Linked DNA regions of Homo sapiens: region 1 is linked to region 2. A link means that fine-mapping ties the variant in region 2 to the expression of a gene that starts in the linked region. Tissue or cell type: whole blood. Region 2 holds a variant in brackets; the other region holds the start of a gene. All regions are shown on one strand. Distances are from middle to middle.

Region 1 (6,278 bases), 71 kb before region 2:
AGGTGTGCACCACCATGCTAGCTAATTTTTGTATTTACTTTAGTAGAGATGGGGGGTTTCACCATGTTGACCAGGCTGGTCTCGAACTTCCGACCTCAGGTGATCCACCCGCCTCGACCTCCCAAAGTGCTGGGTTTACAGGCGTGAGCCACCGCGCCCAGCCCTAACAACTTTTATATTGATTACATGTTGAAATATGTTGGATATATTGAGTTAAATAAAATATATTATGAATTAATCACACCTATTTCTTGTACTATTTTAGTCCGGCTACCAGAAAATTTGACAGGAATATGTGGCTTACATTATATTTCTTTTGGACAAAGCTGGTCTACACTATGAAAAAACAGATTTAAAGGACAGAGTTAAAGAAGGAGAGTGGGACCTCCCTTCCATCTTTGGTGGGGAGCTGGGGCCAGGTAGGTGCAAGCATCAAAGACTGAGCAATTGAGTCTCTGCATCCCCATCTCTGTCCCAGCTGGGCCAGCCAGCAACAGGTGCACTCAGGCCTGGGATGAGCACTCCCCTGGCCCTAGCACATCAAGCCATAGTAGTTACCATAGAGATAATAAATATTCCTAAAAACTGAACTTGGGGAAGTGGAGATGGGGAAATCTACCATAGAGAGAGGGGCAACCAGGCTTATCCGGAGAGGAAACCTGTGTCTGTTGTGTGTTGGGGGTGGGGTGGTGTGTGAGCTCCCACTCCAGGCCAGGAGAGGGAGGGAGGCACAGCCCAGGCAAGTGTTTGCACAGGACTTTCCGGGCCTTCCTCCCTAACTGCCCCACGCCCCTCTTAGCCACCACTCCCCACCTCCCTTTACCAATTCACCACAAATTTCCTATCTCATTCCCCCATGCTGACAATCTGACTCAGAGACCTGAGTAGAAGTGGGAGCAGATAAGTGCCAGCCCTCCCTGATCCCACCCTCTCTGGCTCTGCCCCTGGCAGAGGCAGTTCCCCTAAGAACGTCAAAGGGGGTGGTCTGGGGCCAGAAAAAAAACAAGTTGGAGAGCGCTACAGTGCCAGAAGTAGTACCATTCCTTCTTCAGCTGAGAAAGGGTGGGAAGACCTCCTCCCAGGCAGAGCCTTACTGTTAGAGCTAACACCAGCTTTGCCAGTCACTTTCCTGGCCATCTTGAACGGGGGCTGTACAGGGACATTGGTCCCCCTATCTGTGTACAGAAGCCTTTTGTGAACTGACTACAGGTCCCAGGTATTCTCTGATTTCTCCCCCAAAGGATGGCGCTTATGCTCCCAGGTCCCCGGCAGCATGGTGCATGCGTGACAGCGGCTGGCGTTTTTGGGAGGTGCTCAATATTCCTGCTCTCTAGACCAAAGTAAGTTTCTCTTTGGGATAGCTCGACCCAGAAACTGATGCCACTGGTACCCACTTCCAATTTCCTCCAGCGGAAGGACAGAGAGCCAAGGGGGGTTGAAAGCAGGAATGGGGGGAGGGGGAAGCCTCTGCCCTCCCATCAGAATTCTTCCCTTCCATTTGACACAAAACTCCATTCAACAGACGGGGAGACTGAGGCCCAGAGAAGGCACCAGGTGGCATGTGGTTTATGCCCGGGCTCTCTTCCCTCAATTGCCGCAAAGTTCTCTTTAGAGTCTGTCCAAAAATAAATCCTTCCCTCTCTCCTATCTCCTCTCTCTCTCTGTTGTGTGTGTGTTTGATAGCTCCAGATTTTACTAAGCTATAGTTACGCAGGTTCTGGGCCAGCATGCCAGGCACACAGTACTGCTCTCCTCCTGCAGGGAGCCCCTTCCTATGCCAGTCTGGCCAAAGTCCTTCCCTCTCAAAGCTCCACCATTCCCAACCAGTAGCAGCTCAGTCTAGGGCAAATTCTTACCCCTAGACCCACCCCTAATTGCTGGGGAAGGGAGCCAGCAGAAGGCAATTCCAGAACCACGTGCGTCCCCCAAAGGCCCAATGATCAATCAACTCACAAACGGGCAAACAGACCTAAACACACGCTGAGACTGGCCCAAGGTCACACACCAAGCACATTAGGAGCAAAGCTGGGGCTAGAACCCAGTTGTTCTATCGATCCCAATCCCGTCCCCAAGGCTGATTCCCAGAGATGCTCCCTGAGGATGAGGCTCCACGTCTCTAGCTCCAGAGGCCTGCGCCCTACCCTACACCCCAAGCACCATAGAGCAGGGGGAGGCGTCTCCAGGCCTCTGTACAGGGCCAGCTGCAAACCGCAGCCTGGGTCCCCAGGCGCCGCGGACCCGCCCCGCCCCTCCCTCCGCTCCCCGCAGCCCGGAGCCTTTGTCAGCCACGCGCTCACACACAACCGCGCCGCCACGCGCACACACACCCGGTCTCCCTAGCGCACACCCGCAAGGGGCGCGCGCACTCGCCGCACGCACGCAGGGGGGTGGAGGCGGCGGAGAAAGGAAGGAACTGACGGGCCATGGACGGACAGACGACCTGGGCTGGGGGAAGGGAAGGGAAGGAGGCCCGGGAACCGGCAGCTGGGGTCGGAGGGGGCGCAGAGACAAGGAGACAGAGAGACGCAGAGGAGACTCTTGGAGAGGAGGACAACGGATGGGCCGTCAAGGGCTGGAGAGGACGCGCGGGCTGCTCCAGGGGTGGGGACTCCTCTATCCCTTGGCCCCGGGTGTGTATGAGCGGGGAGCTGGATTGTACCCGTGGTGCACGGAGGCATCCCTTGCCCAGTTGTGCCTGAGCAGAGGGTCCGTAGGGACCTCACGTAGGGCCTGGAGATAGCAGGCCTGAGACCAAAAGCTCTCTGGGGTACCTCCCTCGAGGCGGGTGGTGGGATGGGGTGGGGTCTTGGTCCTCGGGCTGGGTGGGGCACTCGCTCACCTGCCACGGTGTACCTGTCCAGGTAGTTGAGCACGTTGCCCAAGCTGAGGATGGCGGCGGCTGCCCCCCGCCCGCGGCCCAAGCTGGCCGGTTTGGGCTGCTGAGCGCCGGGGCCCTTTGCAGTAGCTGCGCAGCCGGGGGTGCCGGGGGTGCCGGGGGGTCCGGTCGGGGCCCGCCTTACGCTGCCCGACAGCGTCTGCACCTCATCGCCCGCGGCCGAGACTCCAGCGCCGCCCGCGCCCCGCGCCCCGCAGCAACCGCTACCGCCAGCCCCTCGCTGCGCCCCCCGGCGCCGGCGCCGCCGCTCCGCGTCCGCCTCCTCCTCCTCCGCGCCGCCCGCCGCCGCCGAGGCGCATTCCAGGCACATCATGCCGGCCCGGATCGGGGCGGCGGGGGGCGCGGGGGGCGCGGGGCCCAGGCTGGGCCCGCTCAGCGCGTGCGTGCGCCGCGGAGCCGCCACTGCACCATCCTGGTCGGGCCCCGTCGGCTCCTGCGCTCCGGCCCCGGCTGCGGCGCTGCCACCGCTCAGCTCGCTGCGCCTCGTTCGCCGCCGCGGCTCTGACAGCTGCGGCCCGGCCCCGCCCACCAGGCCCGCGCCCAATCAGCTCCGGGCTCGGGCCACAGCCCCGCCCCGCACGTGCTGCCCTGGGGGTGGGGGGCCCGGGGACTGGGGGCCCGGGCGGCAGAGCCCCTCCTGCCAATGGGGGCGCAGTCACGCCGGGGCCGACCGGCCGCGAACGCCCGCGGGGAGCGGGAGAGGGTTTGCTCTGGCTACGGAGCTGGGAGCAGGGTGCTGGTGACGGGGCTCCCAGCACCTACTCAGTACCCTTCACCCAACCCCTGCCTCGGGCGTGGACTCCCGGCGGAGGCTCTGGGAGCCGGGCTGAGGGCTTGAGCCTAGCGTATCTGGGAGAACTGGAGAGAGGAGTCTCAGATGGCTAAAGTCAGGGGCGCCAGTTGGAGAGCCGGTGGCTCCTCCGATACTCACACGCCCGGATTTAACCAGTTCAGGGAGGGCCCAGAACCTAGACCTCCACCAGTCATGGTGGGCTGTGTCTCCCACCTCCCCAGGGCAACCCAGATCCAGCCCCCAACCTACCCCGGGCCCATTCCTGTGTGGGCACCCGGACCCTACCCTTGCCCCACAGAGTGGCCCGCAGCCCCTGGCGGGGAGAGCAAGGGCTGTGATTGGGGCCCAACAGAAACAGGATATTCAGAAGGGGCTTTCCCTCCTGAGGGACCACATCTCCAAGCTTCAGACTTCCAGGTATGTGCTAGAGAGGGTACAAAGCCCCCAGTGGCAGACAGGAGGCTGGGTCCTAGCTCAGCTCTGCCCTGGTGTGTGGCATGATCCTGAACATGACACCCACTCTCTGGGCCTCCATTTCTGTATCTGGGGGCAGATGGCAGGATGGGATTCAGTCTGGAAATCCACGGGTGGTCACCTCCCCTTGGTGGGACGGGGCGGGGGTCTGCCTCCTATGGAGAGTGGTTGGGGTGCTTCTGTGTTCCTGACATCCCATCACGGTTTCACCCCTCCTTAGAGGTGCTGTGGCTCTGTGACGATCTCCCCCTTCCCTCCCCCATTCACCTGTTTGGGGAATTAAAATCGAAATTAAAATCCTGTATAAAGTGCAGAGGACAGAATGTTAGAACTGGACAAACCCTCGGAAACCAGTTAATCATTCCCTGTGTTTCACAGACAAGTCCCAGGGCACGGACGTGACCCATTACGAACAGGCAGTGAAGCTGTGGCAGGGCTGGAGCTGCCCCAGGCTCTGGCATCATCCCCGAGGGCTGGAGCTCACTCCCCGCTAGAGGCTTTTCCGGACCCCACGTCCACAGGCAGGTGCATCTGGTGAAGCTTTCGGCCACAGTGAGTCATGGCATAGCCAACGGGTGACACAGCACGAGGCACCCCCCCCGCCCCCCTCCACTGTCTCTTGTGAGCAGAGTTAATCCCCAAGCTGGTGTTTCTTGGCGCCTTCGAGGTGTATTTTAAATTCTGCAAAGTGACTAAAAATATGCTTCAGCGTGCTGGGTATGAATGACTGTGACGGGAGGGTTAGGAAAACAGATTTCATTCTCAAAGTTGCCTGCTGCCTCTTTCCAGCTCGCTGAGCTCAGGCCTGCAAAGGCGGATGGGGGGAGTTCCCCATGGTGGCCTGGCATGACGGGTGATTAACAAACAAGGACAGAGAGCTAGGAGCTCCGTGGGGCTAGAACCCGGCCCCAGCAATGATCTCGTAAGTGTGTGATGGTGCCAGCAGGTGGACAGAGTCCAGCTGTGGGAGGCTGCCCAGCTGTGGAACTGTGTCTAGTGGTGAAGGAGGCACAACCACAACTCTAGACCCAAGCCCAGGGTCCCCTTCCCGTGCCCCAAAACTCCTCATCCCTTTGGCCACAGTCCTGTCCAGGTGGACACTTTCGGCCTTGACAGAAAGGGGAGCATTCTCTTTCTGCTGCCTTCCCTTTTCACCACTGGGAAGGTCCCAGAGCAGGGGAAGAGGGTGGCATGAGCCTTTCAAACCTGGGGGACCTCTGAGCTGCCACCAAGCAAGCCAGCCCTTCCCACTGTGTTTCACTGGGGTTTCAACTCAAAGGCAGCCTCTAGAATAAGTCCTTGTGTGGGATAAGGGGCCACCAAGGGCAGAGGGACAGGGAGGACAAGAAGCCCTTTCTGGTTGTGCAGCCCAGGACAAATCCCTACAGCCTTCTGAGAAGCTCTGGCAGTAACCTGGGGCTGTCAGACAGAGGACTGGTAGGGTTCTTTCCTCCATCTCGCCAATGAAGAAACTGAGGCCCAGGGAAAAGAAGTAATTTGCCCAAGGTCGAACACCTGGTAAATGACAGTGCATGGACTAAACCCAGGTGTGTTTACCCTCTAATCCAGCACTTCCTCCACTGCACGCTGCCCTCAGACTGGGCGGGATTCTGTTTCTTCATCAGTATAACAGGAGGCTGAACTCCGTGGCTAAAGGACCTTCTGATATTCATTCATTAGGTCTAGATCACAGCTTCAAAACAAATGGGGGCCGGCGTGGTGGCTCATACCTGTAATGCCAGCACTTTGGGAGGCCGAGGTGGGTGGATCACCTGAGGTCAGGAGTTCGAGACCAGCCTGGCCAACATGGTGAAACCCGGTCTCTACTAAAAATACAAAAATTAGCCAGGCGTGGTGGGGCGCGCCTGTAATCCCAGCTACTTAGGAGGCTGAGGCAGGAGAATTGCTTGAACTTGGGAGGCAGAGGTTGCAGTGAGCCAAGATCATGCCACTGCACTCCAGCCTCGGTGACAGAGTGAGACTCCATCTCAAAAACAAAAACAAAAACAAAAAACAAAAGTGGGGGGAAAAAAAGAAAAGAACACACACAAAAAAGAAAAAAATGGGGCACAGAACATTAATGGCCATTATTCAAAGAGCAGTCATACTTGGGAA
Region 2 (7,573 bases):
TGAACAGACATTTCTCTGAAGATATACAGGTGACCGACAAGCACATAAAAAGATGTTCAGGCTGGGCACAGTAGCTCACGCCTGCAATCCCAGCACTTTAGGAGGCTCAGGTGGGTGGATCACAAGGTTGGGAGTTCGAGACCAGCCTGGCCAACATAGTGAAACTCCATATCTACTAAAAATACAAAAATTAGCTGGGCGTGGTGGCATGTGTCTGTAATCCCAGCTATTTAGGAGGCTGAGGCAGGAGAACTGCTTGAACCCGGGTGGCAGAGGTTGCGGTGAGCTGAGATCACACCACTGCACTCTAGCCTGGGTGACAGAGCGAGACTTCATCTCGGGGGAAAAAAAAAAAAAGAAAGAAAAATGTTCAACATCACAAGTCATTAGGAAAATGGCAGATTGAAGCCACCATAAGATATCAGTTCGTACCCACTAAGACGGCTATAATTTTAAAAAGAGAGAGAGAGGAAATAACAAATGTTGGTGGAGAGATTGAAAGCCTCATGCATTGCTGGGAATGTGGAGTAAGGCAGCCGCAGTGGAACAAAGTTTGGCAGTTCCTCCAAAGGTTAAACATAAAATTACCATATGGCCCTGCAATTCCAATCCTAGGTATATATCCAAAAGAACTGAAAACAGGCCAGGTACAGTGGCTCACACCTGTAATCCCAGCACTTTGGGAGGCCGAGGCAGGTGGATCACGATGTCAGGAGTTCAAGACCAGCCTGGCGAAGACAGTGAAACCCTGTCTCTACTAAAACTACAAAAAAATTATCCAGGCACGGTGGCAGGCGCCTGTAATCCCAGCTACTCGGGAGGCTGAGGCAGGAGAATCACTTGAACCCAGGTGGCAGAGATTGCAGTGAGCCTACATTGCACCACTGCACTCCAGCCCGGGTGACAGAGTAAGACTCTGTCTCAAAAAAAAAAAAAAAAAAAAAAAGAATTGAAAACAAAGACTATTTTGAGCCTCTAATCTCAGCACTTTGGGAGGCCAAGGCAGACGGATCGCTTGAGGTCAAGAGTTCAAGGCTGGGCGCGGTGGCTCACACCTGTAATCCCAGCACTTTGGGAGGCTGAGGCAGGTAGATCACAAGGTCAGGAGATCGAGACCATCCTGGCTAACACGGTGAAACCCTACCTCTATTAAAAATACAAAAAGTTAGCTGCGCATGGTGGCGGGCGCCTGTAGTCCCAGCTGCTCAGGAGGCTGAGGCATGAGAATGGCATGAACCCAGGAGGCGGAGCTTACAGTGAGCCAAGATCACGCCACTGCACTCCAGCCTGGGCGACAGGGTGAGATTCCATCTCAAAAAAAAAAAAAAAAGAGTTTGAAATCAACCTGACCAACATGGTGAAACCCCGTCTTTACTAAAAAATCCAAAAAATTTAGCTGGGCATAGTGGCACACACCTGTAGTCCCAGCTACTCGGGAGGCTGAGGCATGACAATTGTTTGAACCCTGGAGGGAGAGGTTGCAATGAGCCAAGATGGGACCACTGTACTCTAGCTGGGGCAACAGAGCAACTTTGTCACTCTGTCTCAAAAAAAGAAAAAAAAAAAAGAAAAGAAAAGAAAACAAAGACTCAAACAAATACTTGTACATAAATGTTCATGGCAGCACTGTTCATAACAGCCAAAAGGTGGAAACAGCTTAAACGCCCATCTGATAAATGGGTCAAGAAAATGTGGCATAATCATACAATGGAATAGTATCCAGTCATAAAGAGGAAGGAAGTACTGATTCATGCTACAACACGGATAGACCTTAAAAACATTATGCTGGCTGGTCACAGTGGCTCACGCCTGTAATCCCAGCACTTTGGGAGCCCGAGGCAGACAGATCACCTGAGGTCAAGAGTTTGAGACCAGGCTGATCAACAAGGTGAGACTCCATCTCTACTAAAAATACAAAAATAATCCGGGTGTGGTGGCACCGCACTTGTAATCCCAGCTACTCAGAAGGCTGAGGCAGGACAATGGCTTGAACCTAGGAGGTGGAGGTTGCAGTGAGCCGAGATTGTGCCACTGCACTCCAGCCTGGGCGACAGAGTGAGACTCCGTCTCGGAAAAAAAAAAAAAGAAAACATTATGCTAAGTGAAAGACACCAGACACAAAAGGCCACATATTGTATGATTCCATTTATAGAAAATATCCTGCACAGGTATAGTCACAGAAACAGAAAGTAAATGGTTCCTAGAGGCTAAGAGGAGAGGAAAATGCTTAATGGGAAGACAGTCCCCTTGGAGAGTGATGAAAATGTTTCAAAACTAGATAGAGGAGATGGTGTCACAACACTCTGAATCCACTCAATGCCACTGAATTATATCCTTTAAAATGGTTACAATTTTAAGTAATGTAATTACCTCAATTTTTAAAAAACATTAAAGAAGCCGGGCTTGATGGCTCGTGCCTATAGTTTCAGCTACTTGAGAGGCTGAAGTAAGAGGATTGCTTGAGCCCAGGAGTTTGAGAACAACCTGGGCAACACAGCAAGATCCTATTTCTTTAAAAAAAAGTTAAAGCAAACAAACAAAAAAGTAGGAGCTTTACAGTCTGACCGGCCTGGATTCAAAATCAAATTTTGCTACTTTCTAGTTGTGTGCCTCAGGCAAGTCTCTAACCTCTCTGAGCCTCCGAGTTCTCATTTGTTTTCTTGTTTAGAGACAGAGTCGCCCCAGGCTGGAGAGCAACTGTGCAATCTCAGCTCACTGCAACCTCCGCCTCCTGGGTTCAAGCCATTCTCCTGCCTCAGCCTCCCGAATAGCTCGGACTACTGGCACACACTGCCATGCCCAGATAATTTTTTGTATTTTTAGTAGAGACAGGCTTTCGCCTTGCTGACCAGGCTGGTCTAGAATTCTTGACTTCAGGTGATCCGCCTGCCTTGGCCTCCCAAAGCGCTGAGATTACAGGCATGAGCCACCATGCGTGGATAATTTTTTGTATTTTTAGTAGAGACAGGATTTCGTCATGCTGACTGGGCTGGTCTCGAATTCCTGAGTTCAGGTGTTCTGCCTGCCTCGCCCTCCCAAAGTGCCGGGATTACAGGCGTGAGCCACCACGCCTGGATAATTTTTTGTATTTTTAGTAGAGACAGGCTTTCGCCATACTGACTAGGCTGGTCTCGAACTCCTGACTTCAGGTGATCTGCCTGCTTCGGCCTCCCAAAGTGCTGGGATTAAGGCACGAGCCACTGCGCCCAACCAGTGTTCTCATTTGTGATAGAGAATAATAAGATGGGTTGGGCGTTGTGGCTCATGCCTGTAATCCCAGCACTTTGGGAGGCCAAGGCAGGCAGATCACCTGAGGTCAGGAGTTTGAAACCAGTCTGGCCAACATGGTGAAACCCCGTCTCTACTAAAAATATAAAAACTTAGCCGGGCGTGGTGGTGCATGCCTGTAATCCCAGCTACTCGGGAGGCTGAGGCAGGAGAATCACTTGAACCCAGGAGGTAGAGGTTGCAGTGAGCCGAGATTGCGCCATGGTACTCCAGCCTCGGCAACAAGAGCAAGACTCAGTAAGTCTTAAAAAGAGAATAATATGACGATGTTTCAGGGGTTAATTGTGAGGATGAACTAATATAGATACACATACTGTTTCCAACATAGAGCTTGTCATGTGACAAACAGAGTGTAGAGTATTGTTATTGTGGTGGTGACGATGATGACGAGGTCCTTGGCATCCACTGCCTGGTTCAGCCGCATACCGTCTCGGTGACCACCCACATGGGGTCTACAGTTGGTGAATGAAGGGGAAGTTCAAGATCATCCATGCGCACGTGCAGGCGGTCTCGCATCCTGCTTCAGAACCTGTACTCCGCAGCTAGACTCACTGCTCACTGGCCATAGGATCTCAGGCAGATCACTCAACCTCTCTCCATCTCAATTTTCTCACCTACAAAATGGGGATGGCCAGGCACAGTGGCTCGTGAATGTCATCCCATTACTTTGGGAGGCCAGGACAGGCAGATCGCTTGAGTTCAGAGTTGGAGATCAGCCTGGGCAACACGGCGAAACCCCGTCTCTACTAAAAATGTAAAAATTAAGGCCGGGCGCGGTGGCTCACGCCTGTAATCCCAGCACTTTGGGAGGCTGAGGCGGGTGGATCACCTGAGGTCAGAAGTTCGAGACCAGCCTGACCAACATGGTGAAACCCCGTCTCTACTAAAAAAAAAAATTTTTAATACAAATACAGATACAAAAATTAGCCAAGGATGGTGGTGCATGCCTGTAATCCCAGGATCACCTGAGCCCAGGAGATCAAGACTGCAGTGAGCCGTGATCGCACCACTGCACTCCCACCTGGGCGACAGAGTAAGACTCTTGTCTTGAAAATAAATAAATATAAAACAAATAAAATGGGGATAAAAATAGTACACACCTCATGGGACTGTTGTGGCTTGAATACGATGATGTTTGAAAAGTGCCTAGAACTATGCTTGGTATGGAGGAAGTATTGTGAGTGTTAAATATAATGGGGTTTTCCCCAGCACATGTAGATGAAACTTTGTTCTCAGCCCCTGCCCTCAGAGCCAAAGAGTAGTGGGCAGAGCTACATCCACAAGTGTGAGTGCATGA[G/C]GAGAAGGTGGGCACACGAGCACCCACACCCCCACTCACACACACTCATGCAAACCACACAGCAGTGGGGACCTTGGCAGCCCCCACCTAGCAGCTGCTGCCCCAAACAGGACCTTTCCAGGGTCCAGCCCTCACCTTTACCCAACAAGAAAGAGACGCTGTGGTGGTTTTCAGAGCCAGTCAGGGACTAGGGAGGGGTTCTTGAGGCCAGAACTCCCAGGAGTTGGGCAAGTCAGGGAGGCTAGGTGTTAGCCAGGAGAGCAGCATTAGAATATATCCAACTGGCCAGGTGCGGTGGCTCACACCTCTAAAACCAGCTACTGGGGAGGCTGAGGTGGGAGGATGGCTTGAGGCCAGGAGTTCGACGCTGCAGTGAGCTACGATCGTGCCATTGCACTCCAGACCGGGCGACAGAGCAAAACCCTGTCTCCAAAAAAAAAAAAAAAAAAAGAAGACATCATGCTGAGTGAAATTACCCAGATGCAAAAGATAAATATTGATTGTATGATTCTACTTATATGAGATTTATAGAATAAGTGAATTTTTTAATTAATTATTAATTTTAATTTTATTTTATTTATTTGTTTCTTTTTGAGACGGAGTCTCACTCTGTCACCCAGGCTGGAGTGTAGTGGAACGATCTCAGCTCACTGCAACCTCCACCTCCTGGGTTCAAGCGATTCTCCTGCCTCAGCCTCCCGAGTAGCTGGGATTACAGGCACGTGCCCCCCACGCCCAGCTAATTTTTGCATTTTTAGTAGAGATGGGATTTTGCCATGTTGGCCAGGCTGGTCTCGAACTTCTGACCTCAGGTGATCTTCCTGCCTTGGCCTCCCAAAGTGCTGGGATTACAAGCCTGAGCCACCGCGCCCGGCCATTTATTTATTTTATTCATTCATTTATTTATTTATTTATGAATGACAAGGTCTGGCTCTGTCACCCAGGCTGGAGTACAGTGGCACAATCTCAGCTCATTGCAATTTCCTTCTCCCAGGTTCAATCCATCCTCCCACCTCTGCCTCCCGAGTAGCTGGGACTACAGGCACACGCCACCATGCTGGCTAATTTTTTGCATTTTTTGTAGAGACAGGGTTTTGCCACGTTGCCAAGGCTGGTCTCAAACTCGTGAGCTCAAGCAATCTGCCCACCTCAGGCCTTTCAAGGTACTGGGATTACAGATGAGAGCCACGGCGCCTGGACTAGAATATGTGAATTTACAGAGACCAAAAGTAGAATAGAGGTTAGGAGGGACTGAATGGGGGCGAGTGAGAAATGGGGTCATTGCTTAATGGGCACAGAGTTTCAGTTGGGGATGATGAAAAAGTTTCACAGATGGAGGGTGGTAATGGTTGCACAACGTGAGTGCATTTAGTACCTCTGAGCTTTACACTTAAAAATGGTTAAATTGAGGCCAGGCGCAGGGGCTCGCACCTGTAATCCCAGCACTTTGGGAGGCTGAGGCAGGCGGATCACCCGAGGTCAGGAGTTCAAGACTGGCCTGACCAAAATGGTGAAGCCCCGTGTCTACTAAAAATACAAAAATTAGCCGGGCGCGGTGGCTCACGCCTGTAATCCCAGCACTTTGGGAGGCTGAGGTGGGCGGATTACGAGGTCAGGAGATCGAGACCATCCTGGCTGACATGGTGAAACCCCGTCTCTACTAAAAATACAAAAACAAAATTAGCCAGGCATGGTGGCAGGCGCCTGTAGTCCCAGCCACTCGGGAGGCTGAGGCAGGAGAATGGCGTGAACCCGGGAGGCACAGCTTGCAGTAAGCTGAGATTATGTCACTGCACTCCAGCCTGGGTGACAGAGCAAGACTCTGTCAAAAAAAATACAAAATACAAAAATTAGTTGGGCGTGGTGGCACATGCCTGTAGTCCCAGCTACTTGGGAAGCTGAGGCAGGAGAATCGCTTGAACTCGGCAGGCAGAGATTGCAGTGAGCCGAGATCGCGTCACTGCACCCCAGTCAGGGCGACAGAGCAAGACTCTGTTTCAAAAAAAAAAAAAAGGCTAAATTGTAAATTCTATATTATTTTACCACAATTAAAAAAAAAGTAAATGGGGTTATTGTAATATCAGAACAGTGACAACATTCTAGATTCCCAGCTTCAGAGGCTGGTTAAATAAATTATGGTACCTCCAGGCCAGGCGCCGTGGCTCATGCCTGTAATCCCAGCACCTTGGGAGGCCGAAGCAAGCGGATCACCTGAAGTCAGGAGTTCGAGACCATCCTGGCCAACATAGAGAAACCCCGTCTCTACTAAAAATACAAAATTAGCCGGGCGTGGTGGCACATGCCTGTAATCCCAGTTATTTGGGAGGTTGAGGCAGGAGAATCGCTTGAACCCTGGAGGCGGAGGTTGCAGTGAGCTGAGATCCTGCCATTGCACTCCAGCCTGGGCAACAAGAGCGAAACTCCATCTCAAAAAAAAAAAAATTAAATTAATAAATAAATCATGGTACCTCCCTACAATGGGGCACCAGACAGCCCTGTACATGATGTTAGTCTATGTTGATCTGAAAGACGTTCAGAATTTGATGGTGAAAAATAAACAAGAGCCTACAAAATCCATGTCCAGGATAATTCCATTCAGATAAAAATAATAAAACACATCAAAGACAAACTTGTGAACTGGCCAGTCATAGCTTATTTGGCTGCTTTTTCTCGTGAATTCTGATACAGAAGCTTATTGGGGGCCAGGCGTGGTGGCTCACACCTGTAATCCCAGCACTTTGGGAGGCCAGGGCGGGCAGATCACCTGAGGTCAGGAGATAGAGACCAGCCTGGCCAACATGGTGAAACCCCGTCTCTACTAAAAATACAAAAAAATTAGCCGGGCATGGTGGTGGTGCCTGTAATCCCAGCTACTTGGGTGACTGAGGCAGGAGAATCCCTTGAACCCAGTAGGCAGAGGTTGCAGTGAGCCAAGATCGCACCACTGCACTCCAGCCTGGGCAACAAGAGCAAAACTCCATCTCAAAA

What was found. PIP is the estimated chance that this variant, and not a neighbour inherited with it, causes the effect.
Region 1: SPNS2 starts here. The variant in region 2 is fine-mapped to the expression of SPNS2 in whole blood (TOPMed, PIP above 0.99).

What each region holds. Positions count from the first base shown.
Region 1 is chr17:4,495,979-4,502,256 of GRCh38, reverse strand. SPNS2 (SPNS lysolipid transporter 2, sphingosine-1-phosphate) reads right to left here and starts at 3,376. Exons shown (of 13, transcript NM_001124758.3): 1 at 2,840-3,376. The coding sequence starts at 3,209. SPNS2-AS1 (SPNS2 antisense RNA 1) reads left to right here and starts at 3,522. Exons shown (of 3, transcript XR_001752763.2): 1 at 3,522-4,106; 2 at 4,542-4,715. RefSeq lists enhancers at 1,942-2,576, 2,577-3,212 and silencers at 3,254-3,303, 3,364-3,513, 3,524-3,583.
Region 2 is chr17:4,423,895-4,431,467 of GRCh38, reverse strand. No RefSeq gene overlaps it. Among named protein-coding and RNA genes, the nearest start is that of SPNS3, 6.3 kb to the left of the region's middle. The variant G/C (reference allele first, on the strand shown) is at 4,586.